4 separate regions of the Homo sapiens genome follow, and regions 1, 3 and 4 are each reported to be linked to region 2. Evidence: microRNA targets listed by miRTarBase, many of them from high-throughput screens and not tested one by one. Region 2 holds a microRNA gene; each other region holds the end of a gene's coding sequence.
Evidence for each region. The annotated mature microRNA hsa-miR-935 reads CCAGUUACCGCUUCCGCUACCGC and lies in region 2 at 3,615-3,637, shown strand. An mRNA with a match to its seed (bases 2 to 7 or 8) in the 3' UTR can be bound and repressed. Matches are read on the target gene's strand: a 7mer-m8 pairs with bases 2 to 8, a 7mer-A1 pairs with bases 2 to 7 and ends in A, and an 8mer does both.

Region 1: the mRNA of LCOR is a reported target of hsa-miR-935. The part of its 3' UTR that is shown has no 7-base or 8-base seed match.
Region 3: the mRNA of SF1 is a reported target of hsa-miR-935. The part of its 3' UTR that is shown has no 7-base or 8-base seed match.
Region 4: the mRNA of LMF1 is a reported target of hsa-miR-935. The part of its 3' UTR that is shown has no 7-base or 8-base seed match.

The regions. Positions count from the first base shown.
Region 1 is chr10:96,984,505-96,991,504 of GRCh38, forward strand. It overlaps LCOR (ligand dependent nuclear receptor corepressor), which reads left to right. Exons shown (of 8, transcript NM_001346516.2): 8 at 1-7,000. The coding sequence ends at 630. Among named protein-coding and RNA genes, the nearest start is that of SLIT1-AS1, 110 kb to the right of the region's middle. RefSeq lists enhancers at 1-241, 242-741, 308-437.
Region 2 is chr19:53,978,748-53,986,066 of GRCh38, forward strand. MIR935 (microRNA 935) reads left to right here and starts at 3,560; the gene lies at 3,560-3,650. CACNG8 (calcium voltage-gated channel auxiliary subunit gamma 8) reads left to right here. Exons shown (of 4, transcript NM_031895.6): 3 at 1,120-1,260; 4 at 3,333-7,319. The coding sequence ends at 4,102. RefSeq lists an enhancer at 1,236-1,768.
Region 3 is chr11:64,759,686-64,767,021 of GRCh38, forward strand. It overlaps SF1 (splicing factor 1), which reads right to left. Exons shown (of 13, transcript NM_004630.4): 12 at 7,215-7,336; 13 at 4,921-6,470. The coding sequence ends at 6,133. PYGM (glycogen phosphorylase, muscle associated) reads right to left here and starts at 289. Exons shown (of 20, transcript NM_005609.4): 1 at 1-289. The coding sequence starts at 213. RefSeq lists enhancers at 1-403, 404-1,106, 2,443-2,492, 2,523-2,842, 3,430-4,303 and 6 more.
Region 4 is chr16:848,614-855,949 of GRCh38, reverse strand. It overlaps LMF1 (lipase maturation factor 1), which reads left to right. Exons shown (of 11, transcript NM_022773.4): 11 at 1,244-2,316. The coding sequence ends at 1,418. Among named protein-coding and RNA genes, the nearest start is that of GNG13, 52 kb to the right of the region's middle.

The sequences.
Region 1 (7,000 bases), not on the chromosome of region 2:
GTATGCATCAACCCTCTGATGTCCCCCAAGCTTGCCCTGCAAGTGGATGCAGATGGGTTTCCTGTTAAGCCCAAGAGTACTGAAGGAATGAAGGGAAGGAAGGGGAAGCAGGTGTCTGAAATCTTGCCTAAAGCAGAAGTTCAGAGTAAACGCAAGAGAACAGAAGGCAGCAGCCCTCCAGATAGTAAGAACAAGGGGCCTACGGTGAAAGCCAGCAAAGAAAAGCATGCTGATGGAGCCACCAAAACCCCTGCTGCCAAGAGGCCAGCTGCAAGGGACAGAAGCAGCCAACCCCCCAAAAAGACGTCTTTGAAAGAGAATAAAGTGAAGATCCCTAAAAAGTCCGCTGGGAAGAGCTGCCCTCCCTCCAGGAAAGAAAAAGAGAATACAAACAAAAGGCCTTCCCAGTCTATTGCCTCGGAAACACTGACGAAACCTGCAAAACAGAAGGGGGCCGGTGAATCCTCTTCAAGGCCTCAGAAAGCCACGAATAGGAAGCAGAGTAGTGGAAAGACTCGGGCCAGACCCTCAACGAAAACCCCAGAGAGCAGTGCAGCTCAGAGAAAGCGAAAGCTGAAGGCAAAGCTGGACTGTTCGCACAGCAAACGGAGGCGGCTGGATGCAAAGTGATTGGAAAGATGGTAGCCAAGAGTAAAACTGTTCTATAGAAGTAACCTTTTATTTTGCATTAACTAAATCTGCTTTTATAAGCTTATCAAGCCTTTCAAATTTACAGTTAATGGAGAACACCGTAATTTGAGATGTCAGAAAATGCATCTCAGATGGAGAAGGGAACTTGCAGAGTCCTTCTCTGAGGCTAAGGGAAGTTATATATTATATTCTGGTTGTTCCTTGGGTTTTAAACTTGGAACCAAGCAGTTTTCGTTTTTAAAAGTACAGTGCCTTATTTATCCTTTTTGTTTTTAAATTTACAAAAGCTAAAAAGCTGATCTATGTGATTAAAGGCTTGTATTTTATACTTGATGCACAAGCACTTGTACTGTAGCCGAGAAGACCACCATCATGCACATAAAAGGAGCTTTTCAGCAGCCACCCTGCAGCATCTGCCCACGAACAGATGCCCTTCTTTGCAAACCCCAGCAGTGAACTTCCCTCTCTGTCTTGTTTGTTTGTTTAGATGATGTTTGAAAGCTAAACCAAATCATTTTATGGTATGCAGAGGATTTATAATTATAAAAGATTACTATTTCTGTTACCCCCTTTTAAAAAAGATCATGTTCATTGTTGGTCCCTCCTCTCACCTTTGATGTTTTGTCATTTGAGAGCATGTATTCTAAATTATGTGCCCATGGGACAAGAGATATGTCACAAGTGTTAATTTTTGTTTACAAACTCTAAAAAATCATTTGCATCCCCAAACTGTATTACTAATTCTCACCATCTTCTTCATTTCTGGTCTTGCTAGCACTCCTGCAAGGCTTCCATCCTACTTCGGGAGGAAAAAGCCTAGGATTTTTTTTTTCCATCTTGTAGCTGTAATTTGATGATTAGGATGAAAATGACTCTTATTTTCTTTCTTACCCAGAGTACTTCCATATTCAAAGAAAGCCGAACTATTATTTCCAGTAATAGAAAGGTTTAAGAATATGTATGTCCATGTGTGTTTGGGTGCATTTGCATGTGGTTATCAGCCACAAATGTCTCCCAATCCCAATTTTACAGTAAAATTTTTTCCCTATGCAGTGTGCTTGGGTGTCCCTGAGTTGAGTAATTAGCAAAGGACAGATGGTTTAAAAGTAGCCCAGTGTCTCTGTGAGCATCCCCAATACCACTTTGGTACCAGACTCAGAAAGATCTAAAACAGCATGGAGTTATGTAAAGGTTAGAGCAGCCTTGCAGTTGGAGGAAGCAGCTCCAGCATCTGTGAAGAGCCCACACACCCCCTACACCCAGAGCTGATGTTCAGCTGTATGCTCCAATGTGAATGTACTTGTTGGAGTAGACGTTCATTCTGATTGATTAACACCATCCTAGTAGTTAAATGCTTGTAGTATCACTCCTGCCATGTCATGTCAGGCTCTATTCCGTGTCTCAGAAGTGAGAGCCACAATGTTTTAATGACTTTGTTTGCCTTTCCCAGGTGAAGCCTGAGACAGGCGCATTGGCTTCAACCTAGTGCCTGTGACCTTGCTCCATTATTATAGTGCAGCGTGTACTTGACTTTTCCATTGGGCCGCTCTACAAAAAAAGGCTTGGTTGTTGAAGCCTCAGTCAGCTTCCTTAACCGGTTCTGTCACCAAAATCAGCTTGTATGGACAGCTGCTGCCCTGTCCTTTTTATTTGAAAATTTTCCATTTAGGTTGTTTCAGATCTCTTTAGATAAGCCCAGATGGACTTTTTTCATGCAAATCATGATAATACAGGCCTTCTACCCATTCTGTTAAAGGTTTGCTGTATATCATGGGAACTTCTGATGATTGGATAAGACTGGAGAAAAGTATTTGATTTGTGAGAAATTTAGAATTGTGTTGAATTTCATAGCTAGAGAAGCTTGCTGTCTTATGAAGCCCTGATTTTTTTTCATGTCTTCTCTATCTGATGAGTCTTTTTCTTTTTAGTATCTTTGACTTTGGCCATTCAAGAGCTACCTACATTAATAAAACTGCTGAGTGTGTATGTTGGCAACCCTTTCTCAGCATTAAGTTGCACAGAGGCATTAATGTGTTTTGAATAGGTTCATTTAATCTTAAAAAATGGTTTTAAGGTTTTAAAAATGTCTTTTCATATAGTTGTCACTGGATATTGTGTTTGTGGTGACTTAAACAGCTGATGTTTGCCAATGTCAGGCATGCTGATTCCTGTACAGAAGAGGTGCCCCGTTGGCTGCATACCGACTACCTTGTAAGGTGCTTGGATTAGGTTAGGGAGAGGTGTAAGGTAGTAAGTGGGTGGAACTTTTCCAGTTCCAAGTTTGTAATTCATTCCATTCCTTTTCTAAGTTCTTTTTCATTTTTAAAAGCTCAGTTAAAGATAATAGCCTTCTTTCCCATTCTAGGCTGTGTGTGAGAAAAGGTGTTAATGTGTATGTATGTATTTTATATACCTAACAATGCAATGGATCATCTTTAAAATCAACTTATACTTTATAATAAGGACATTTAAATAGACCAAGAGTCTACATAATTATGACACTTAAAAGTTTAGAATTTTTTATATTTGTTGAATCTCATTTTTGCTGATTCAGTTAATTTTGTTAATAGAAGAAAGAAAACAGCAAAACTTGAGGGCTAATCCTGCAAGGCCCTTTGATACCTACAGCAGGTACTGGCAAAGCAGTTTCCCAGATACCTCCAAGCTCAGGTGTGGTATTGACTCAAGTCTGCTATTGTTTTCCCTACCTTGCAAAAACCTTCTTCCCAGAGCCATCTTCAAGAATGGCTTACCACACCAGATGCAAAAGCAGTCCATCCCACATTCCGATCCAAATCAGAAAGGAATTCTCCTGGGTGTACACTCAGTGAAATGACTGTTCCAGTCTTGGGGCTGAAGTTGATGACCAAAGGACACTGGTATTCTCTGAGTTTCTGGAGAAGCTGGAAGATGCCTGGGAAGCAATCACTGAAGCTCTGCCATAGCTCCCGTAGAGGAGGGCCCTCTTCAGGACACCCATCTTCTATCCTACGAGACTCCCTGCTATAGATGGACATGCAGGAGACCACTCCCTCACTTGGGGTCCTGAGCCTCACCCCTAGCACTTCCTCAGACAGGTAACAATCTTGCAGCACAGCAGGAAGGTTGTGAACCTTTATTCTGCTCCTGAGGCTTCCTTCATAGGAATGCTGTCAGTTTCTGTAAGTCACCAGTCACTAGCCCCTTGGATTCCTTGTTAAAGACTTCTGTGCAGCCTTATCTAAAATGATAATCTTAGGCTGTGAGTCTCCTGCTGTATTGTTCCTAAAATCGTATGGATAGAAGAGGTGCCCTTAGTCATCCCTTTACATATGTGGTGCTTTCTAATGGGATCTCTATGCATCACATACTATGCAGGTGAATTTCTCACTGTTCAGATAGGTCATCAGTAAAAGGCATCACTTCAAGATAATTACTTTGAATTGAGGTTTGGCCTCTTTTCCTGCTTTGTAATGGGTTCGGTCATGAGGGTGGGAGCTGTCATTCACATTTATGGGCAGCATTCCTGTTGATTAGTGGACCTAAGAGCCAAGTAGGAAAATATAGCATGCTATGTGATACAAGCTGGAGATGCTGTAGTGTTACTATCAGCAAGTTCTGTGCAGACTGCCTTTCGGATTCCAGATGATCTGTCAAGGGTCTGCCAACTGTGGGCTGGTCGCTTGTTTGTGTAAATAAAATGTGTTTGGAATATAGCCACACCCATTTTCTTAAGTTCTGTCTGCGGCTGCTTTCGCACTGCAAGAGCAGAGTTGAGTAGCTGCGGCAGAGACCCGTGTGGCCCTTACAGCCTAAGATACTATCTGGACCTTCAGAAAACATCTGCTGATCCCTGCTTGAGAAAGTCATCCTTTTCAGGAACAAATATTCTTGATTTTCCTTCTCTCTTCTGCCCTTTTCTCTCTGTTCTTCTTTACTTCTCATTTTCCTTGTCTCCATTTTTTCTTTTCAAAGGAGACATGTTATATCGATATGCACTACTATCCCCTTAAACTTGAGCAACCTTAGCATTCCATCTTCTTAAAAAAAACCATCACAGTAGCCAAAATGAGGCCACCTTACCGTATCGAGCCGGAACCCATGAGCAAATAGGGATTCAGAGTTCTAAAATTATGTGGCCTGGGCCTCTCATTTCACTCACACAGAACTGACTCTGGCTTTATTTCTTGTTTATTAAAGTAAGCCAAGATTTTGTTTCTGGTAAAATTAGTTGAGACTACTTTAGTTGGACTTTTAGTCCTCTGAATGTCACATTTAGATATGGAAAATGTTTTTTCACAGAGTAGAAACAAAGTCTGATCACAATCCCAAAGCTTTGTTTATTCTTATATAATATTTTGGTACTGATACCTTTTCAGCCACATACTTTCAAAATAATTTTATTAAAGGTAAGCCAACAAATAAAACATAGAGGCTTTTGAAGTGCTTTAATATTGATTTAAAAAATTGGAGTTATAACCAGAGTATGACTGAAAAGCTATTATAGTCTTCCTCCTTTTCCAAAAACTCAAGGATAAGGATATATATATATATATATATATTTTTTTTTTTTTTTTTTTTTTTTAATAGAGACGAGGTTACGCTATGTTGCCGAGGCTGATCTGAAACTCCTGGCCTCAAGCAGTGCTCCCACCTCAGCCTCCCAAAGTGCTGGGATTACAAGTGAGCCACCGCACCAACCCAAGTATGAGTTTCTATGCTGGTTTTTTTTTAATGTGATTCAATGTCCTGTCAGTGAAAAATTTTTGTCAGTGGCCCCAAATCACTGATCGTTTTAGTTGTTTTGAAACAATTATCATTTTGAATTCTTAGTATTACTTTGATGTCTTATTGTGACTTGATATCCACTGAAATACTGGAATTTTTTTTAAGTATAAAATTGATCTGTGTAAGGCGGTCTTCATATCCTAGCAGTAAGTGCTATTCCCCATGCTTGCTCTCAAATCCTTTTCAGGGGAAAAATAAAAAGATTATTGTATTTAAAACGAGCAGAATTGTGGGAGGGCCTTCCCCTCCCCCTGCCCAGCCCCCAGACAGGGTCTCACTCTGTCGCCCCAGGCTGGAGTGCAATGGGCATATGGTCTTATCTATTAGGGTATGTAGTTTAAAAGTACAGTTTTTTGAAAGTATAGTCATCTTCATTTTTATGACGCCCACTGCAGGCTCAAAGAGATTTTCACACCTCAGCCTCCTGAGTAGCTGGGACTACAGGTGCATGCCACCACACCCAGTTAATTTTTTTTTTTTTTCCAGTTTTAGCAGAAATGAGGTCTCACTGTGTTGCCCAGACTGGGAAGTCTTTTGAGGCAGCCTTCAATATAATTCATCCTTTGAAACATCAGAACAGAGTCCTGTATTCTACAATGGATGGATTGGAAGACTTGAGGATCCAGTCTCTTTCCTTTATAGATAATTAGACTCAGGCAGAAACTCAGAGCTCTCAGGGCTTTGCTGTGCTGTGCTGTGTCATGCCGTCCTGGGGCCCGGGGAACCACCCTGAGCACTTTGTGGAGTGTGTCCTTGCTCAGGCTTTTGCCTTGGGATTGAACCGAAGCTGCTCAGTTCCTTCCACTTACCTCCTCTCTGTCTGATCTTCCTTTTCCCAGAGCCTCAGTGCTTGATGCTCAGTGCTCAGGAGATGTCCTTTGCTCCATCCTTCAGAGGGGCAGTTGTGTAGTTATGCTGCCGGGTGAGCACAGACACACATACTTTCTCCCCTAGCTGGGACCATCCCACACGGGGTGCTCAATATGCATGCCTCATGAAAGCATAGACTGTCCATTTAAAAAAAAATCAGGTACTCATGGTATTACAATATGCCAGGGGTTGGACAAATGGATTTTTTACCCTTTTTTAAAGGGTTATGTAAAAAAAAAAAAAAAAAAAAAAAGCAACTATATGTGGCCCGCATAGCCTGAAATATTTACTTCCTGACCCTTTTGTGGAAAAGCTCTACTGATCCTTATAGTAGTCATTAAAGATCAAATTGTGTAGACAGGCACAACTTTTTTTTTTCATATGCTCCAACATTTTTTTCATACAGTCCAGCAATTCTTTTAGATTTTAGAGTGTCTTGCCTGTTCATCTCAGTACACAGCTGCTGTTACAGATTATTCCTGAATAATGCTTTTGCGTTAAGAAAAATTATCCCCCTTTGCCAGTTGTCTACTTGTTAATAAGTTGTGGGCCATGTGATCATATCTATTAGGGTATGTAGTGAAAACTAAAAGTGCAGTCTTTAAAAGTACAGTCTTCATTTTTATGAATCAGAGTGAACTTGACTGTGGTAGACATTCCATTAACAGCAGTTCAGCACAAACAAATTACTCATGAACTTAAAGCCAAGAAT
Region 2 (7,319 bases):
CTGCAGAGAAAAAGAGGAGGGCGGGGCGGGGAGTGGGGGCGGGGAGAGAGAGATAAGGGGAAGAAGGGAGGGAGGAAAAGAGGGAGAAAGAGAGATAGACGAAGTCAGGCCTAAAGGGGGTAGGGAGGGAGGGAAGGAGGAAGGGAGAGGAAGGGAGTGAAGAGAAGAGAAACCTGGAAGATTGAAGAAACCAGGCAGAAAAGGAGGGGAGAGAGAGACCCAGGAAGATAGAGGAGGCCAGGCGAAAAAAGGGGTGGGGTGGGGTGGGGTGGGGAAAGACCTAGGAAGACAGATGAGGCCAGGCAGAAAAAAAAAGAGGGGGGAGAGACCTAGGAAGATAGGTGAAGCCAGACAGAAAAAGTTGTGGGTGGGGGTGGCTAGGAAGACAGATGAGGCCAGGGAGAAAAAGTGGGAGAGAGACTTAGGAAGACAGATGAGGCCAGGCAGAAAAAGCGGGGTGGGGGGGGACCTATGAAGACATACGAGGCCAAGCAGATAAGAGGAGAGAGGGGAGACAGAGCCAGAAAGATAGATGAAGCCAGCAATAAAACTGGGTGGGGTGGGGGCGTGAGGAGAAGAAGGGAAGAGAAACTCAGAAGTAGATTCAGCCTGGCAGAAACGGGAGGAGGAGGAGGAAGGAAGGAATGTAGAGAGAGAGAGAAACCCAGATAGATGAAGCGAGGCAGAAAATGGGAGGGGGTGTGGAGAGAGGTAGTAAGTGATTTGCGGGATATGGAGAAAGAAATTCGCAGACGAGAGGAAGGAAGGGACGAGAAAGAGAAAGGGAGAGGATCCATGGAGAAGTTGGGAGAAAAACAGGGAGAGTGATTTCGATAAATAAAGAGGGGGAAAGATATTCCAAGAGAGAGAAAAATAGTCCGAAGAAAAAAGAAAAGGACAAAGAAAAAGAGGGAGAGAAAATCAGACCGAGAAATAGAGAAATTTTAAAAACAGGAGAGAGAATGAGGCAACAGTAAAATAAACCAGAACACAGCCGGAGAGAGAGAATCACAGAACTGTCGGGAGGCGCCGCGAGATGGGGGGCCGGGAAGGGGGCGCAGGCGGCCGCGTCTGACCGCCCTCGCTCTCCCTCCTTTTCCTTTCCTTCCTCCCCCGCAGGAGTTGTCCGGGCCTCCAGCATCTTCCCCATCCTTAGCGCCATCCTGCTGCTGCTCGGGGGTGTGTGCGTGGCGGCCTCCCGCGTCTACAAGTCCAAGAGGAACATCATTCTGGGCGCAGGGATCCTGTTCGTGGCAGCAGGTGAGAGGCAGAGGGAGGGGGCGACCGGGGCGGCCCACCTGGGCGCGCACGTGTGTGTGTGTGTGTGTGTGTGTGTGTGCGCGCGCGCGCGTGAGTGCAAGTGCGCGTTCGTGTGTCTGCAAAGCCACCTTGCCCCGAGCACCCCCGGGGGCCCGGAGCCTTCCTAGGCGGTCCCCAAGCTCCATCGCCACCCGCTGGGTAAGGTGGGTGTAGTTCTCGCGTCGCCTTCGGAGGAGTAAACCGACACAGGCAGGTGTCTGGCGCGTAAGACGCCGGGCGCTTAGGATCCCAAGCCCGCCGTCCTGGAGACGGAAGGGGAGGAGCTGGGGAGGGGGTGGGACCTTGAGACACAATTGGGCTCTTGAGGATAGAGAGGCGGGGCTGGGTCTTGGAGGGCGGGCCCAGGAGAGGTAGAAAGTGATCTGAGCGCCGATGAGGAGCCTGCTTTAAGGGGCGGGCCTTTGGAGACTTTGGTGGATCCAAGAGGGGGCTGGTCCTGGGAAACCGTCCAGGGCCGGGAAGTGGAAACTAAAGGGGCTGGGTAAGGGAGACTGAATCGGCCCTTGCCCGTGGCCATTTGGAGAAGGAGAGGCTAGAAAAGACGGGGCGATGCCTGGAAAAGCCAAAGGGGGAGGGGTTATGTCCTTAAGGGCACAGAGAATCAACCTGGCTGATTGAAGCAAGAGGCCGACCAAAGCCAGTCAGTACCTGGGATTGGCCGTCTCAAGAGCTAGGGCCTAGACGAGCAGAGAGCTAGGACTGGAACACTTAAGAGGCACGCAATTAAGGGGTAAGGCCCCCTTTCTACCCCGTATGAGTAGCATTGGGAAATTCCAGGGGCAGAGCTTTTTTGGAGGAGTAGAATACAGAGAAGAGGGAGGGCTTTGCATATTTGAAGAGCAGGGTGTGCTTTGGGGATGGGTCTAGATCTGCAAGGGGTGGGGCTTGGAGGATCTGAAAGGCCGGAGTAGCTGGACCTGAGACCGGCAAGGACCCGAGACCGGCAAGGACCCTGGCCAAGATCCGCACGGGGCGGGGTTTGGTAAGCTGGAGGTGGGGCCTAGAGTAGAAGGCGGGGCCTGCTTTATTAAAGGCAAATTTTTGACCAGTAGGGGAGGGCCTAGAATGGATACTCCGGCAGGAATTATATGAAGAGAGATTAGATAAGTGAAAGGCAGGGCCTGATCACAGCAGGATGACATCATTAACAGAGTTCAAAGGAGCAGAGGGATGAGGCTTGGGAAAAACCCAGGTTTATAACGTTAAGGGTGGAGGTAGACTAACTAGGGCAGGGCCTGGAAACTCATCTCATCAAAGGTGGGTTTTAGACCAGTCAGGGCAGGGCCTGGACTCGCTGGGAGTGGGGCTTAGGCCACCTAGGGGTGGGGCCTGGACCGCTTGGGGTGGAGTTACCACCAGCCAGGGTGGGGTTTAGACCAGCAGAGTTGGGACCTTAGCTAGAGGAGTGGGGTTTATGCCATGTGGGGGCAGCCCAGACCATCTGGGGGTGGGTCCTAGACCACCTGGGGCAGAGTTTAGACCAGCCAGGGCTGGGTTAGACCGGCAGAGGTGGGCCGTGGGCTATCTGGGGGCAGGACCTGGACCATCCAGGGCCGTGTCTGGACCATTCAGGGCAGGGCCTGGACCACCTGGGGGTGGAATTTAGACCATCTGAGGGGGTGCTTGAGCCTGCCTGGGCCAGGACCACGCATGATGCAGTCTGGACCATTGGCGGCCCTACACCACCTGGGGGATGGAGTTTCGACCAGCCGGGGTTGGATTAGACCAGCAGAGGTGAGGCCTGGGCCAGCTAAGAGTGGGCCGGAGCCCTCTGGGTTGGAGCTTAGACCAGCAGGGAAGCGCCTAGAGCATCGGGCGGGGAGTTGTGTTCACTTCTGGCAGGACTTGGGTCAGCCAGATCCAGGACGGGGGTCTAGACCACTCGGGGTGGGGCCTAGACCGCCTGGGGGTGGCGCCTGGGCCCGCTGGCGCAGGCGGGCAGGGGTCGGGGCCGGGGGCGGGGGCGGGGCCGGGGGTGGCCTCGAGGCTCCCGTCTGACCGTCCCCGCCCAGGCCTGAGCAACATCATCGGCGTGATCGTGTACATCTCCGCCAACGCGGGCGAGCCGGGCCCGAAGCGGGACGAGGAGAAGAAAAACCACTACTCGTACGGCTGGTCCTTCTACTTCGGCGGGCTGTCGTTCATCCTGGCCGAGGTGATAGGCGTGCTGGCCGTCAACATCTACATCGAGCGCAGCCGCGAGGCGCACTGCCAGTCTCGCTCGGACCTGCTCAAGGCCGGCGGGGGCGCGGGCGGCAGTGGCGGGAGCGGCCCCTCGGCCATCCTCCGTCTGCCCAGTTACCGCTTCCGCTACCGCCGCCGCTCCCGCTCTAGCTCCCGCTCCAGCGAGCCGTCGCCGTCGCGGGACGCGTCTCCCGGCGGCCCCGGGGGCCCGGGCTTTGCCTCCACGGACATCTCCATGTACACGCTCAGCCGCGACCCCTCCAAGGGCAGCGTGGCCGCGGGGCTGGCGGGGGCCGGCGGCGGCGGCGGCGGCGCCGTGGGGGCGTTCGGCGGCGCGGCCGGGGGCGCCGGGGGCGGCGGCGGAGGCGGCGGCGGGGCGGGTGCCGAGCGGGACCGCGGGGGGGCGTCCGGCTTCCTCACGCTGCACAACGCCTTCCCCAAGGAGGCGGGCGGCGGCGTCACGGTCACGGTCACCGGGCCGCCCGCCCCGCCCGCGCCCGCGCCACCCGCGCCCTCTGCGCCCGCCCCCGGGACCCTGGCCAAGGAGGCCGCCGCCTCCAACACCAACACGCTCAACAGGAAAACCACGCCTGTGTAGGGGCGCGGCGGGGGAGCCGAGGGGCGTGTCCGGGGCGCGTGCGCGGGCGCGCGTGCATCGAGGCTGCCGGGGTCGGGGGCGCCCCCGCTTTCCCCCGTGAGCGCGCTGGAGACTGCTGGGCCCGCCCCACGCCCACCCTCCCCGCCCCCCTCCCCCTCCGAAGCAGGGACCCCGAGGGAGGGGGCAGGGGAGGGAGGGGGCCGCTGTGAGGGAGCGTCGTGTTTTATTTTTTTGGGGGATCTATGGGGAGGGGGGAGGGCCATGGTGTTTTTTGCAGTTTCGAGATGTTTTCTTTTTCATGTTTTGCTGTGTGCATGGGGGGCGGGGCGGGGGGAGGGGAGGGAGGGACTCCCAGCCCAGCCCAACTCCTGGAGAGGGGCCCATAATACACGAATACATAGTTACACCCACAAACTATATATATGCCCTATATAAAGAGACACAGCGAAGGGATGCAGAAAGGCAGAAAGAAGGGTTGGACGCGGGCATTCATTCATTTTTTTCATTCATTATTCCACAAGGGCTTATTAAGCACCTACTGTGTACCAGGCACTGGTACATAAGAAGGCATTGGAGCAGGGGACACGAACGAGGCACAGAAAGGGCCTTCTCATTCATTCATTCATTACCGGCAATTTATTTGTGCGCCTTAAAAAGCTAGGCATTGTGCTCCGTGCTCAGCGTGCAGGAGGCAGGAAAACAGCCAGGGGCCCCGACGTCTCATAGAGTAAACATCTTGTGCATGAGACAGGCATTAATCGATCATGTACATACACAATAAATTACAGTTAGGCTATAGGAGAAACGAGATGCTATGAAATGCTCCATCAGGGGAGCCTAACCCAGTTGTGAGGAAGAGATTTCAGTGGACAGTGAAAGGATGAGAAGAAGCCAGCAGGGCGGAGCTGGGGCAGGAGTGTGGCAGGCAGAGCAGCACGTGCAAAGGCCCCGGGGCAGGAAGGAGCTTGCAGCGAGGGCTGAAGGGTAGTGAGGCAGGTGAGCGGGGATCAAGGTGAGGCCGGAGACACAGACAGGGCCAGATTGTGCAGGGGCTCGTAGGTCAGGAGTTCAGATTTTATTCTAGGAGTGGTGAGGGCCGTGGAACGGGTTTAAGCAGGACGCTAACGTGAATGGTGTACAAAGGGAAGACAGGAACTCGGAGGCAAGAGTAGGAGGCAGAGATGTGCTGAAATACAGCATCAAACATGGGCACGGGCCCTTGGAGCTCACACTCTTGTGGGAGGAAGCACGTAATTACACAGATGCTGAAGCATAGTCATGGTGTCTGGTGTGCAGGAGAAAGCCGTGGGGCTTAGAGACTCATGTGTCTGTCACTCGTTCATTCAGCCACTCACCCATTGCCATTTTTGGCCATCTGCTAAGGTACCAGGAAGTGTGTTAGGATCCAGATCCCCAGGGGTGAAACAGACTCTAGCCCTGCTCTCAAGCAGTTTATTGTCATCAAACACCGCCATCCAGGCAGGGCAATCGGTGCTGGAACCCGGACCACCGTGGGTACCGTGGCACACGGTGGACAGAGTGACCAACTGCCAGGAGTGAGCAGCACTTGGGGTAGGCTTCCTGGAGAATATGATGCCCATTCTGGGTCTTGAAGAAATGAGTGGGCATCTTCTGGTTGATGAAAGGCATGAGAAAGGCTTGTGGGGCCAAAGAACAACTTGGGTGAAAACGGGAGGAAGTGAACGAGCATGATGTATTGGGGTCAGTGCTAACAGTTCTGGGATGCTGATGTACAAGGTGGGGCTGGGAGATGAGGCCGGGAAAGTAGCCACAAGCTAGAGTGTAAAGGTACCAGGGTGGCCGGGCGCGGTGGCTCATGCCTGTAATCCCAGCGCTTTGGGAGGCTGAGGCTGGAGTATCACTTGAGCCCAGGAGTTTGAGACCAGCCTGGATAACATGGCGAAACCCTGTCTCTACAAAACATTAAAAAAAATTAGCCGGGCGTGGTGGAGCACACCTGTGGACACAGCTACTCAGGAGGCTGAGGGAGGAGGACCATTTGACTCCAAGAGTTCGAGGCTGCAGTGAGCTAGGATCGCGGCACTACACTCCAGCCTGAGCAACAGACTGAGATCCTGTCTCAGAAAAAAAGAGAAAAAGGTGCCTGAGTTCCAGGCAGAGGGACTGAGGCTCTTCTAAGGATGGTGAGAGAGGATGACAGCTGCGCGGGGGCAAGGGCTGTGCGGTGATTGGAGGGGATGGGTTTGAAGTTCACTGAGAAGGCAGAGGGGACAGCGCCCAGTAGGCTTCCCTTCCATATTTGCTCAGCAAGTGTTTCCTGAGGCCTCCCCCGAAGCCTTGTGCTGGGCGGTGCTGGGAGTGGAGAGGTGATTTTGATCTTGCCCTGCTCTCAAGGGGCTCCCAGTCTGGCGGGAAAACAGGCACAGACGCAGCTTGAGGAGGACGTGGCAGCGGTGGTGCCATGCTGCCAGGGGCTCTGCGTGCCCTTCTCTTGACGGAAGGGTACAGATCAGAGCTGGGTGTTCAGAATTTCTCTCCGAGGCCTGTGTGGAAGGACCAGGAAGAGAGAGACTGAAGGTCCCTAGGAAGAATTCTGCCAAGGCGGTTTCAGGAAGAGATGCTGGGAAATGTAGGAAAAGGAATACAAATCAGTGAGACGGAGAAGCGCTGAGTGAGAGAGACGGATACGTGGAGAGAAGAGGGATGCCGGAGCGGGTGTTAAAAGAGACAAATCTGGCCGGGTGCTGTGGCTCCTAATCCCAGCACTTTGGGAGACTGAGGCAGGCAGATTGAGCTCAGGAGTTCCAGACCAGCCAACATATTGAAATCTTGTCTCTACCAAAAATACAAAAATTAGCCGGGTGTGGTGGTGCACGCCTGTAGTCCCGGCTACTCAGGAGGCTGAGGTGAAAGGATCTCGCTTGGGCCTGGGAGGGTGAGGCTGCAGTGACCCGTGATGGCACCACTGCGCTCCAGCCTGGGCGAAAGAGCGAGACTCTGTCTCAAAAAAAAAAAAAAAATTGAGAGACAGCAAATATTTGCTGGAAGAGGGAGAGGGAACTGGTTAGGGGAGAATGGATTCTAGAGTCTGAAGGCCAAACAGAACGAGAGAGAGAGAGAGAGAGAGAGAAAGAATGAGGTTGAGGGTAGGCAGGAGGAAGAGCAAGATGGGGAGGGAGGGGGAGAGCAGGAGAGACCAAACTAGTAGAGTCACAGACAGAGAAAAAGTCAAAGA
Region 3 (7,336 bases), not on the chromosome of region 2:
CGTGCGGATCCAGCGCCCCACGAGGTGGTCGCGCACGGTATGGGCCAGAGCAAAGTAGTAGTCTCGTGGGGTGGCCACATTGCGGTCCTTTACGAGTGTGAAATGCAGGTGCCGGTTGAAGTTCTTTTTCAGCTCAGTCACGTTCTCCACGCCGGCCAGGCCACGCACACTGATTTGCTTTCTTTTCTCTTGGTCTGACAGGGGCCGGGACATGGCTGCAGGAGGGCGGGCCGGACTGGACTGATGGTAGAGGGGACGGCGGCCTCAGCACTGCCTCCAGCCAAGGAGTGGAGCTCCCCAGCCTCAAGGGGATTTAAAGCCTGGCTCTGGGCAGCACGCCCCGCCTCCCCTGCAATGGGAGGGTCTTGGCCTGGCAGCTCAGGGAGCTATTTTGAGGGCAAGGGGAGGAGAGGAGAGGGGAGGGAGAGGTGAGCTCCACTTGGGCCGCCAAGACTGGCCTGGCTTGTTCACAGGCCTGTGCTGACCCACTTCCTCCAGGCCTTGCACATGGTCTTCTGTCCCTTGTCCCTGCCTTTTGGAGGGTTGGATACAAGAAGGAGCAGGCAGAGTGCTGGATTGGGGAGCTGTCTGTCAGTGGCTGAACCAGGATGGGAGGCCATGTGTTGTGGCAAAAGGAACCAGGACCCCCTGCAGGCTGTGGTGCAGGAGCCAAGTCAGTGTCCCCTGACGGAAGAGGTGCAACTAGCAGAGGCCACTGGATGTCTTTGAGAAAGGGGCCCACGACCCTGCATTGCAGGGGTGGTGTGAGGGAGGTTGTGTGAGGCAGGGCCACAGCCCTCACTCCACCCCCACCGAAGCTGAGCAGCTCTAGGCTCCCCCTGTTGCTGTCCCTCAAGGAGCCCTGAAGTGACCTTTTGGAGAGGGATGCTCAGGTTACTGGCCAGCATTGGCGGGAGGCCGCTAGCCTGCAGCACGGGGCCCTGGGAACTGTAGTCCTATAGGCCCTCGGCGGTGGGAGAAACTGAGGCATTCCCCACTCCATCATCATACTGGTTTAATGACAGTAAGTTCTCCCTGTGATTCCACTGCTTAGGAAGTGATTAGAGGCCTTCTTTCACTTCTTCCTGCCACCTGGGGCCACACTCTGAGCAGGATTTTGTAAACCAGCTCTGTGACCTGGCCTATAAAATGGGTGCCTAATCTGTACCTCGAGGACCTCACCCCATTTGTGTGCATAGCCCCACAGCTTTGAGCCCTTCCCTGGAGGCTTTGGCTATCCTCCCATTCACTGCTGTGTTCTGGCCCCAGCACTGACTTGCTGTGTGACCTCAAGCTGGTTGCTTTACCTTTCTGAGCTTTGGATTCCTTCACCAAATTTAGACTCTCCAATGAGAAAAAAAAAAATCCCTGCCTCTCAGCTGCTGCCTCCTCATCTTGTGAGGGCAGGCTTCGGATCCTGCTGTTCTTTAAGAGAAAGGAACCAGGACCTTGTGCTAGTTCAAAGGCTGTTTGGGCCTCCCGGGTGGTGGGCCGGTGGAGGGGAAGAGCTGGGTGTTCTGTTCTGAAGGCCAAGGAAGCAGGTCAAAAGCCTGGACAGCTGCAGGATACTATTGAGAGCCTGGTTCGGAGAAAGCCAAGCTGTTTCTGAGAACTTTTTTTTTTTTTTTTTTGAGGTAGAGTTTCATTCTTGTCGCCCAGGCTAGAGTGCAATGGCATGATCTCAGCTCACTGCAACCTCCGCCTCCTGGGCTCAAGCAATTCTGCCTCAGCCTCCTGAGTAGCTGGGATTACAGGCACCCACCACCATGCCCAGCTAAGTTTTGTATTTTTAGTAGAGACGGGGTTTCACCATGTTGGACCAGGCTGGTCTGGAACTCCTGACCTGAGGTGATCCGCCCACCTTGGCCTCCCAAAATGCTGGGATTACAGGCATGAGCCACAGCGCCCGGCCTCCGATCACTTTCTGAGCCATGGCAGACCCAGCCCTGGAATCACCGGCTTAGTATGTGGGCCAAACTTCAAGTCCTACAGAGGTCTCCAGGCTCCCAAGCCCTGCTCTACCCCTGCCCCCAAAAGGCACGGGCACACTGTCTTCTGTGGTGCCTGCCACATTTCCAAGTAGAGAAAAAAGATCGGGAAAAAAACACCAAAATACACCTCCACAGACACGGGGATGCAAACAACTTTTCCTTACATTTTTCTGTTAATTTCCAATTTCTCTTAAGAAGTGTTTCATAAACCATTAAAAAACAATGCTGGCCGGGCGCGGTGGCTCACGCCTGTAATCCTAGCACTTTGAGGCCGAGGTGGGTGGATCACCTGAGGTCAGGAGTTCGAGACCAGCCTGATCAACATGGCGAAACCCCGTCTCTACTAAAAATACAAATATTAGCCAAGCATGGTGGCACATGCCTGTAATCCTAGCTACTCGGGAGGCTGAGGCAGGAGAATCACTTGAGCCCGGGAGGCAGAGGTTGCAGTGAGCCGAGATCACGCCACTGCACACCAGCCTGGGCGACACAGCGAGACTCTGTCTCAAAAACAAACAAAAAAACAATGCTGGCAGCTGTCTGGTCTCTTCCCCTTTCACAGTTTGCACCCCAGCCTCAGCTCCTGGGCCTCATCCCCATCCTCCACTAAGCACAGCTTGGACTCCAGCTTGGCCTGGCATCCAAGGTTCTTCACAGCCCGCACTTGTCCCTTGGAGGGTTGCTGTGAGTAGAGCTGAGACTTCTTGGCAGTCCACTGCCAGGCAGGCAGTAGCTTGTTAACCATGCCGTCACCTCACAGCCCAATCGTGGCAGCCTGCTTTGGCCACACACACCTTCTTTGCATTGACCCCTATTTCCTGCAAGACTTTATGTTCCTGCCACTGAGGACCCGATCCCCATAGACCATCCACATCTTACAGGCAGGGAAGGCCAAGTTCATTCCATCCTTTCCCAGCTACTCTCCCCTCTTGCACCCAGGGCGCTTGCTCTCAGGAACATTTTTACTGGGAAATTTTTAACTTTCTCCAACTACCTTTTCTGTGGCTTCTTTCCGTCTTTGTCATGCCATCACTCCCCACTGTTTCCAGGCTTTGTCCCGGGGTGACACTGCATGCCCCAGCCCAGCATGATCACACCTGGGCAGCACGATCTCATCTGTTTCCCTGCTTCCTCCGCCCCTCCTTGGTGTTGTGTATGCAGGTTTAATGAACCCTGAAGCACTTTTACAACCTGAACTCACTCGAGGTTATTTATGTCTAAGTTTCTAACTAGAAACCCGGCCTCCTTCCTTGGACCAATCCTGGGTTTCTCCAGAGCCCTTGGCTGAACCTCAGTAACAGAGCCCTGAGGCTGACCTTTCCCCACTGGCATTCCTCTTGCCAGGCCTTGCCAGGCCTTGAGGGACGGGGACAGTGCTGCTACAGCAGCAGAAATGAACGTGAGGAGAGGGGGTGGGGCAAGCACAGCCCTGTCACAATGTGATGGAGTAAATGGCTTGCTTTCCCACCCCAGGTGTCTTAAGACAGGTGGGCAGGCCTTTCTCTCTCTGATTCTGCCAGAGGCAAGTGCTTGCCACGGTTCAGAGGGCCAAGCCTTCCTGCTGTCTCTTCCATTTCAGGGCCTCTAGCACCTTGGAGACTGATGCCTTAGTCAGCCACTTCCTCTCCAAAACCTTAACAAAAGCTGACGGCAGGGAGCAGAAAGGGAGGGAGCACAGGAATGGAGCTGGCCTGGGGGAGAGAAGCGGAGGAGATAGCTAAGCTGTGGTTAAGTCATTTATTGATTTTATTTCTAAAACCCACATAGCGCCACTTTGCCGCTTCCAGAGCTTCAAAGAGCTAATTAACCACCCAATGAGCCCACCAGGGAAACCAAGCTTGTGGGAGAAGCAATGAGGTGAAGCCAAGGTCAAAGAGGGTAGCCAGGCCCCAGGCCCTGCCCCCATTCTGCCACTTAAGGACAAAGGCAAAAAAGATGTCCTCCTTTTGGTGAGCCGAAGTTTAGGGCTTGGCTGGGGAAACGCACTGAGCCTGCCTTGCTTCTGAGGGCTCCTCAAGCCTGGCAGACCCATAGCAAAGCACAGGCCTCCTGGACGGGGGACCAGACACCCCAGTAAACAGCAGTAGCCAGCCCTAGCTCACAGCTGGAAAGCAGCCCAGGCCAGTTGCTGGCCCCAGCAGCCAGATGCTGGGGGAGCCTACTGTCCCTCAGCCGCCCTGAAGGAAGGAGAGGCAGGTGGAACCAGGGCAGCTCTAAGGCACCTCTGCCCAGGAGAGGACCTCACTACCTGGTGGAGACTCCACATGGATTTTTCTGGAACCCTAACAGTAACTACCCACTCGCCGCCCAAGACATGGAAAAAAAGCAGAAGACCCTTTGAAAAGTGCTTGCAAAGCACAAGATGGGGCACTTTATCCTGTCCCCCCGACCCCCGCCAAAGCCTACAGCGCTGGCAGGCTGCAAGTCACCAGCAGAGAAGGAAAAAAGCCACTTGGCGGTTTTAATTTTAGCTGCTCTGTGCCTGACAGGCAGGATTAGTTGGCTTGACCTTTAGTGTTGATGCCTCCCCAGGCCCAGGGCCTTAGGTGGCAGCTTCCAGGCACAAATCACCACTGGAGCTCATCAAACGTGGACGTCTGAGCCCCAGGAAAAAGCCTTCAAAGGACAGAGACTAGAAAAATGAGCAGTGAACAAGGAGGGGCAAAATTGGTTCTCAGCGATGTTAACTAGTCACCAAAGGGGAGACTGTGGAGCCACCCACACACTGAGCTCCCACCACCAAAGCCACACACAGGAGGCAGGTGGTGGGCTTCCCTAATTAACCACCCACAGTCTCACCCCCCCGGACCTGGTGCTGAACGAAAGTTAAGGCACCTTTGGTGCTGCTGCTGCTGCTGGTGGTAGAGGAAGTTTATGTGAAAAGAAAAACCGGGCGGGGCAGGCATTAAAAAGAAAATAAAGAAGCAGACCCAGAAAACCACACTGCTCTTTTATTCAATGGAACATCCCCGCTTTAGCGCAGTGTTGAATCTAACACCGAAAAAAGCCCAGAGAAATTTCTGCAGATAAACCAGTGAAGAGAACGCGCAGTATACATTATTGTCAACAGAATCACTTCATGGAGAGGGAAGCGGGAGGAAAAAGGAAGGAGAATGAACAAGGGGCTCAAACCCCTACACACTGCAAAACATTCAGACATTTGGGATTAAAACAAAACATAAAAGGAAGCCTTCCAGGAAGGAGAGGACCAAATGGAATCTGAGGCAGCTCAGGTGATCAAGGAGCACAGGAAGAACTCCAGGCTGGCAGGCGAGCCCGAGGGAGCTCAGGCTGCCCACCCACTGCTGGCAGGATCGCCAGGACGGATGGGAATCCCGAAACCTGGAGATGAACCTACCCTCGGCAACTTTACAAGACTCCCTTGACAAGGGTGGCAGAGATTAAAAAACCCCACGCTTTAAACAAACATCTTTGGGGGTGGCTATGGCACCTTGAAAAACCCACAACCAGCTTGACATGAATGGCCAAAGCCCTTGCCCAAAACCATTTGCTCCCCTCTCCTTGGTAAGGGAAGGAGAACTGGAGAGAAGGGAAAGGAATCTAAATTGCAGCAGAAGACCGGGGAGAGCATCTCCTTGGACGGAGTCTGAAGAAAGGAAAAGATAAAGAAGTAACAAAGGAAAAAGAAAAAAATTAATAAAAATTTCACGATATGGAGCCAGCGTGTTCCGATTCCGTCCACAAAAATAACTCAGGCTGCTTTGCCGAACCATCCTGTCCACCAGGGGCGTTGCTGAGGCTGTCTGCCTGGAAGGGTCACCAATGGGCGCGGAAAGTCCTCACTCTCATGGCTCGGGCCATCGCCGCCGCGGGGAGGGATCCTGGCGGCCCGGTTTGGGGAGAGGCAAAGGGAGTTGGGTGAGGAGAGAAAGAAGACAAAGAAGACACTCGATGCTACGGGGCGCCAGGAGAGCCCAAGCTGGCGCCCCTACTACCACCTGCCCGTTCCCAAGCGAATCCTCAGTCGCTTGGCCCAGCCCAGTGCGTGCACACACACACATGCGTGCACACACAATCACATGCGTGCGTCCCAATGTCTGGCTCCATATGGTGAGGTTCGGCGTGTTTAAACGAGACCAATTCTCTCTATATATAATATATATTTTCTTAAAAAACAAGTCTAGTTCTGTGGTGGAGGCGGTGGGGGAGCTGGAGGCATCCCGAAGGGCGGCATGCCCGCCACCCCCATGCCCATCATGGTGACAAAGTTAGAAGGGTCCATGGGAGGCGGAGGAGGAGGGGGCGGGGCATACATCATGCCGGCGGAACCAGGCGGTGGAGGCGGCGGAGGGGGAGGGGCCCCAGGCGGCAGAGGCGGCTGGACCCCGGGGGGCAGGGGCACCATAGTGGGGTTGCCTTGCATCTGAGGGGCTCCTGGAGAAGCTGCGGCAGCCGCCTGCTGCTGTTGCCATGGCGGGATGGACCCTGTGCCAGCGCTCGTGGTGGTAGTCGTCGTATCTGGGGTGGTAAAGAAGCCCAAGGTCACACGCGCGGGGGCACACCGCGGCTGTCTGCGGCTGCTGCCTTGGGATGGGGGCGAGGGGCGCCTGCTCCTTGCTTGGCATGCGGTACGGTGGTGGGGGGCGGGTGGGCGGGGCTGGTGATGGGGAGTGGAGGGGTGGGCAGGACTACCCTGGGGTCAGCCTCGAGGTCTCTGGGCTTAACAGAGTAAGCCCTTTGTCACCAATGCCCCTGGAAGGGCTGAGGGGAAGGTACCAGACACAAGAACAGCTCTGATGTCCCTCCGCCCAGCCGCCGCCACCACCGAACGGCACATTCAACCTCAAGGCCACAGCTGCTGTCTCCCCACTGCCCAGTCCCACCTCTGCAGTCTCTCACCCCAATCGCAGCCCTTGCCAGAGCAAGCATGCACCATCCCACTCGACCCATATGCACCAGGCTCAGTCCAGCCAGCCGCTCACTCAGCCTGCGAGGGTCTGGACTTCTGGCCCCCTACCTACAATAGCAGGCTCCCCTCCAGGCCCCCACGAACCTCTCCCCAGACACAACCACACCAAACATCAGCTCTCCTCTTCAAGATGCCCCTCCACCCCCTGGACCAGGAGGCCCTTTCTGTTTACAACCCCAGCAGAGCCCAGGGGCTCATCCCAAGACACCTGCCTGCTTGTGTGAGGCTCTATGGTTCCTGTCAGCCCCACCCCCATCCCACCCACCCCCACAAGCCCAAAATATTCTACTCACTTTGCTGCCATGGCAAGGGGGTACTGGAAGCCATACTGCTGCTGGGCGGAGGGGGTGGCGGAGGCTGCTGCTGCTGTTGTTGCCATGGGGGAAGAGGACCAGAGGGAGGGGGTGGGGGCTGC
Region 4 (7,336 bases), not on the chromosome of region 2:
CCAAAGAGACTCAAAGCCAGGAGGAGCCGGGTGGACCCAGAGGCCCTCACCCTGCCAGCCTAAGGGGCATGGCCCAAGGTCTCCACCCCCAGCCCCCAGAGCACAGCTGTGTGCAGGTCACCAGAAGCCCCAAATAATGACAGCAGCCCAGACAGTCGCTACCGGGCCCTGGTGCAGTGTGAAGCCTCTGGCACCTGCCTGGGCTCATTCCAGGGGCCATGAGAGGGTCCTGTTATGGCTGCACCATCACACCCACCGGGCAGCTGGGGCCCAGCTCTGCCATGGATCCCAGCCAGGCAGCAGCCGCCCTGTGGGCTGAGAAGCTTCCGCTCCTGCTGCACAACTGCGAAGGGGCCTGGAGGGCCGGGAGCTTGTGACGGTGACAATTCCTCCTGGCGCCTCCTCCTCCGGGGCAGCCGAGCAACCCTGGACATGAGGGGGCTTCGTCCCACCCCCAGGAGAAAATGCCCAGTCCTCCGAGAGTCCAGTGAGGGCTTGCCAGCCAGGGACCAAGACCCAGTATGGCCTAAACCAGGCCTGGTCACCAGGGGTCAGGCGGGACCTTATACAGGGCTCAGCAGAGAGACCTGCCCGCTACCCTGCTCCAGGGGAGATGGGGGTGGGGGCCTTCATCCCACTCGGGCATGACAGAGGAGAGCAGCCAGCCAGCATCTGCACGTCTCAGGCAGGGAAGGGCCTGAAGCCCTGGGAAGCAGAGGCTCCGCCCTCAGGAAACAGGTCCCGGCCTGGCTCCCTCACAGCCTCGGACTGCCCCGTGGACCGAAACCCCCAGGCACCTTGCGCCAGGACTGGCCTGATGGTGGAGACGCCACACCATGAGCAGTAGGTTCCTCTCCCCACCTTCCCAGGCGGGGGACACTTGGGGCTCAAACTGGGGCCTTGTGAACGGTCTCAGGCTTGCTCAGTGCCACCCGTGAAGCTCCTGGCCTTCCCCGGGCCGGTCCCTCTGCCAAGTGGGCCCTGCTGGGTCTCCCCTCCCGGAGCTGCCCCCCGTCCGCCCTTCCCCCTTGCTGCGCTGTTCACTGCTGAGGGTGCCGACTGGAACAGTTGCCCTGCCCGGGGTCTGCTGGGGGTCTACCTGTGCTCAGGGTGGGGGCTCCTCATGCAGCCCCTCTGTCCGTGGGGGACCCTGTGAGCAGCTGCAGCTCAGCAGCAGGCTGAGGAGCCGGGTCGGGGGCCGGGAGTCCCAGCAGGCCCTGGGCTGACATGTGCCCCCTTGCAGGTGGGTCCGAGGAGAGCACTACAGGTACAAGTTCAGCCGTCCTGGGGGCAGGCACGCCGCCGAGGGCAAGTGGTGGGTGCGGAAGAGGATCGGAGCCTACTTCCCTCCGCTCAGCCTGGAGGAGCTGAGGCCCTACTTCAGGGACCGTGGGTGGCCTCTGCCCGGGCCCCTCTAGACGTGCACCAGAAATAAAGGCGAAGACCCAGCCCCTCGGCGGCTCAGCAACGTTTGCCCTTCCCTGCGCCCAGCCCAAGCTGGGCATCGCCAAGAGAGACGTGGAGAGGAGAGCGGTGGGACCCAGCCCCCAGCACGGGGGTCCAGGGTGGGGTCTGTTGTCACATACTGTGGCGGCTCCCAGGCCCTGCCCACCTGGGGCCCCACATCCAGGCCAACCCTTGTCCCAGGCGCCAGGGGCTCTGATCTCCCATCCATCCCACCCTCCTCCCAGAGGCCCAGCCTGGGGCTGTGCCGCCCACAGGAGTTGAGACAATGGCCATCCTGACACCTTCCTCCACTACAGCCCTGACCATAGACCCAGCCAGGTAGCTCTTGGGGTCTCTAGCGTCCCAGGGCCTGGTTTCTGTTCCCTCTTCAATGGTGTGTTCCCAGCCAGGTCCTGACCCTCAGAGCCAAGTCCCTGTCACGTCTGGGGCAGCCAAACCCTCGCCCCACAGGGACCTGGACACGCCCGGCCAGGATGTGGGGTTGGATGGGCCATTTTCTGTCCTATCCCTCATCTCCACCCCCGCCACAGCCTACACGCATCCCACACATGCAGGCACACACAGCCTGTGCACACATGTGTTCTTGGCCCGGTTTCATCCCCCCATGACTGGTGTCTGTGAGGTGCAGATGGACACAGCGCACACCCAGACCCTCCACCAGGCTGTGACCTCGCTGCCTCTGAGGCCTTGACAAGGCCCCTCAATCGGAGGACAGCCGGCCGTGCACACTTTCATCATCGTCGGACAAACAGCGTCTACTGCACATTTTTCTTATTCCTATTCTTGAGCCATAGCTATGGCATATTCTTCTACTATTCCTATTATACCACTTACCAGCTTACTCGAAAACACACTGTTTAAATGAAGAAGTTCTTGTACCTCCCTCCCCTTGGCGGTGGCCGTGCCCCCAGCCCACACTCTGATGCTGGGGCAGCGGGTGACCGAGCGGGAGCTTGATGGAGAGGTGAATGGGTGGTGCTTTGCCTGGCGACCCTTCCAGTGTCTGCTGCGGCAATACTTGGAGTAAATGGGAATGAGCAGGGGTGCCAGCCCTGCCGGAAGGAGGCAAAGCTCTGGGGCAACGTCCCCCACCCAGGACGCTGTGAGGCTGGGTCCTGGGAGAAGTCAGAAGTGGGCCCCACCATAGGACAGAGGCCCTCCCCTCTCCCCCAGCCTGGGGGGGCGGTTCCCCCACCCACCCCTTCCCCCTGCCTCCATCCACGGCACCTGGAGCCATGATGCCCACGGCTGAGCCACTGTGGGGGGCCCCAGTGGGGACAACACGGTGGTTCAGGCCGAGGAGGGCGGCTGCGGTAGGCACAGTGTGGGTCTGTGTGGAGCCCCCCCTCGGCCTGCCCGGGGGGGACAGCCAGCCCAGGTGCCAACAGAGGGCCCGTGTTCCAGCTCCCGGGGAAACAGGGCGCCCTGTGTCTGTGGAGGGACAGACAGGGCCTCAGAGGGACGCACCAGGAGCCAGCAAGTCTGCCGGAGCGACCACGCGGAGCTGTCGGCCACAGGGGCCTGGGCGGCCCTTCCCGGGGGGCTGTCCCAGGGACTCTGCTGTTGGTGGGGCCCAGCCCTGTGGCACAGCTCAGGGGCGGACATCTCAGGCAGCGGCAGTTGTGGGAACCCGAGGGACCCATCGCCTGGGAAAGGCTGGTGCCACGGGGTGCCCCTGCCCAGCCTCTGCAAGGGGGAGACCTGAGGAGCCAACAGCCCTCCATGCCCCCTGCCCGGAACCCTCCCGTGCGGCTGTCCTCCCCGTAGTGGGTCCCGAATCCCACAGCCCCTCCTCCCGGGCTCCTTCACCCCGCTCCAGGCTCCTCTTGTCCCAGGGCAGCTGTGCACCACTGGTCTCCCGGGGACCCCGTAGTGGGGCTGCAGGTCCTGGTCAAGGGGGGCAGGGCAGGAGCCCACAGCAGTAGTGACTGGGCACCCCGTTCATGGGACCCACAGCCCAGAGACTCCGCAGCACTGTCCTGGGACCACGGGAAGGGCCTGCAAGAGCCCTGGAGCAGACACCCTCATCCTCCGTTGGGGATGGCAGCTGTGACTTCCCAGGGGACCTGGGGGTGGGGTCACAGGGCATGTGGGGTCAAGTCACACAGCATGAAGTGGACCAGGGCCGTCATTAAGCGAACAGTTTGTGGTGTGGAGTGCGCTCCCGAGGCCGTGCATCCACCTCCCCTCCATCCAGCCCATTTCCATCTTCCAGACAGAGCCTCTAGCCCCAGGGAATCCATCTCATGCCTCTGTGGGTCCCTGTTCGGGACCCTTCATATAAACGGAATCACGGGCCTCAGCCCTCCCATCGGGCATGTCAGCTTCTTCCCTCACGTCTGAACTCTCCACAGAGTCTGTGCGAGACGCCCAGCCCCCGGCTGCCTGTGTTCTGTGTGACGGAGGGTCCCACCTGCCGGTGTGGGGCAATGGGGCCAGTGGCCCCGACACGTGTCAGGCCGATGCCTGTGGTCAGGAAGTCCCCTGGGGGCGGAGGCCTGGGCATCTGAAGGGGTGCTCGGGGTGGGAGTCATGGTGTGATCTGCCCTCCCCATCTCGGCCAGCCTCGGGGGCCTGTCACTGTGGAAGGCAGGTCTGCTACCACCTCTGGGTACCCCACCAAGGTCACAAAAATAGGGGGGCCCCTGGACCCAGCTGGGGGCCTCGAGGGCCCACTCCATGGAGCCCTTGGCTCTGACCCGTGAGTGTCCAGCCCTGCTCAGGGAGACCCCCTCAGCTGGCAGGCAGAGGAGCCCTAATGGTGGGGGTCCAGTCTCTGGATCCAGGTTCCCAGAGACGTCCACTCACCTGGGGCGGACAGGTGACCTGAGGTCGGGTTGTGACAGCCTCGGCTGGAGTGGAGCCTGCACCCTCTGCAGACCCAGAGTCTGTCACACCTGACCCTTCCAAGGCTGGGTTCCCCTCACCTCATCTGTCTTTGGCAGATAGTCCCAAGGCCTCACCACACTGAGCCCATCTCCCCCAAACGTCTGGGGTCCCTGTGTGGTCAGGGCCGTGGGGCCTTTACACTAGCAACCAGTGCCAGCGCCCACACGGCAACCCCCTGGCTCTCCAGGGCCTGCTCTGCGCCCTGACACTAAGCTGCCCCAGTCCCGCACCAGGCCCTCAGTGTGGGTCTGCTGGGTCAACTGTGGGCCTGGGGGAAGGGAGAGGCACCCTGGAGTCCCCAGAGCAGCCTCCCTGGCTGGGTCAGGCCCTCAGCCATTCTCACTGCAGCTTGGAGGTCTCAGACTGCCCAGGTCCTCATCTGAGCAGGAAGGTTTGGGAGAATGGCAGCTTTGGAGCTTCAGATCAGCAACACACAAGAATACCACAGACGGCAGCAGCTGGCCCACAGTGGCAGAAAAGAAAGCTCCCTCGTCAAAACAGTATCACAGCAGCATGGAGACCTAGAGATAAACGGGGCACAGTAACCACCCGAGAAATCGTCCCACATGCGGCCAGGTACCGCCCAATGAGAACAACACGAGAAATCGTCCCACACACACGGCCAGGTACTGTCCGATGAGAACAACCCGAGAAATCATCCCACATGCGGCCAGGTACCGTCCGACAAGAACCCGAGAAATCGTCCTACACACGGCTAGGTACCTTCTGACGAGAACGGCCAGAGAAATCGTCCCACATGTGGCCAAGTACCATCCGACGAGAACAACCCAATAAATCGTCCCACACACGTGGCCAGGTACCTTCCAATGAGAACAACCTGAGAAATCGTCCCACGCATGCGGCCAGGTACCTCTGACGAGAACAGCCCGAGAAATCGTCCCACACGCAGCCACGTACCTTCCAATGACAACAACCCGAGAAATCATCCCACACACGGCCACATACCTTCCGACGAGAACTAGGTACCTTCCGACAAGAACAACCCGAGAAATCATTCCACACATGCAACCAGGTACCTTCTGACAACAACAACCACAGAAATCATCCCCCACGCGGCCAGGTACCGTCCAACGAGAACGACCAGGTACCTTCCGACAAGAACAACCAGGTACCTTCCGACGAAAATGACCCGAGAAATTGTCCCACATGCAGCCACGTACCTTCCAATGAGAACAACCCGAGAAATCATCCCACACACGGCCACATACCTTCCAACGAGAACAACCAGTACCTTCCGATGAGAACAACCAGGTACCTTCCGATGAGAACAACCCGAGAAATCATTCCACACATGCAACCAGGTACCTTCTGACAACAACGACCCAAGAAATCGTCCCACACGCAGCCAGGTACCTTCCAACGAGGACAACCAGGTGTCTTCCGACAAGAACAACCAGGCACCTTCCAACGAGAACAACCAGGTACCTTCCGATGAGAATGACCCAAGAAATTGTCCCACACGTGGCCTGGTACCTTCCGACAAAGGCTCTGAGACCATTCAATGGGAAGAGGACAGCCTTTTCAGCAAATGGTACTGGGAAAGCTTTATCTCCACATGCAAAATAATGAATGAAGCTGGCCCCTTACCTAACAGCATACACAAAAATTAACCCAAAAAACATAGGATGAAACACCTAAATGTAAGAGCTAAAACTGTAAGACTCAGAATAAAACCTGGGAAAATCTTAAGGACATTGGATTTGGCAGTGTTTTCTTGGATATGACAACAACAGCACCGGCAACAACACAGAAAATAAATTGGACTTCATCAAAATTTGACATTTCTGGCCGGGTACAGTGGCTCACACCTGTAATCCCAGCACTTTGGGAGGCCAAGGCAGGCGGATCACCTGAAGTCAGGAGTTTGAGACCAGCCTGGCCAACATAGTGAAACCCCGTCTGTGCCAAAAATACAAAAATTAGCCTGGCGTGGCAGGCACCTGTAGTCCCAGCTACTCGGGAGGCTGAGGCAGAAGAATCGCTTGAACCCGGGAGGCAGATGTTGCAGTGAGCTGAGACCGTACCACTGCACTCCAGCCTGGGCAATAGAGTAATATTCTGTCTTTAAAAAAAAAAACTGTGGCTATAAGTGAGACTGCAGAGCTGCCCCGGGCTGCTGTCTGTGGAAGCCCTGCCCTGCGGGAGCAGCCACAGCTGTAACCCCACCTCTGAAGTAAAGCTGTTTCCTTCCACCTCTGGCTCGACCTTGAATTCTTTCCTGGGCAAAGCCAAGAACCCTCTGGGACTAAGCTCCTCTTTCGGGCTCGTCTGCCATGCATCAGAATGATGTGGCCACGTGGAGACTGTCTGGGGGTTCCTCGAAATGTTCAGTGTAGACGGATGACCACATGACCCCGCAACTCCACGTCTGCACGTAGACCCGGGAGAGCTAGAAACGGCGACCACGTGACCCCGCAACTCCACGTCTGCACGGAGACCCGGGAGAGCTAGAAACGGGGACCACGTGACCCCGCAACTCCACGTCTGCACGTAGACCTGGGAGAGCTAGAAACGGGAACCACGTGACCCCGCAACTCCACATCTGCATGTAGACCCGGGAGAGCGGGAAACGGGGACCTGGGTGTGCTTGCACCGGAACGTTTGCAGCAGCCCAGAGGTGGGGACAGCCCAGATGAACAGACCAGGTGTGCTCACCCATGAGCATTACGCAGCCGCAAAGAGGAGCGAGGCCCCGACGCTCAGATGAGCCTTGAGAACCTGATGCCCAGTGAACCCGCCAGACACAGAGGGCACCGGTCCTGCGATGCCGTCTCTGGAATGTCCAGAACAGGGAAACCCACAGAGACGCTGGGCAGGGAGAAGGTGGACGGCTCTCGGGGCTGCTGGCAGGAACAGGGAGAGCGGGCATGACGGCTCACAGGTCCAGAAGGTTCTCTGGCGGGTGATGAAAATATCTGGAATTAGGCAGAGATGCTGGTTGTGCGTGTGGCCAATGTGT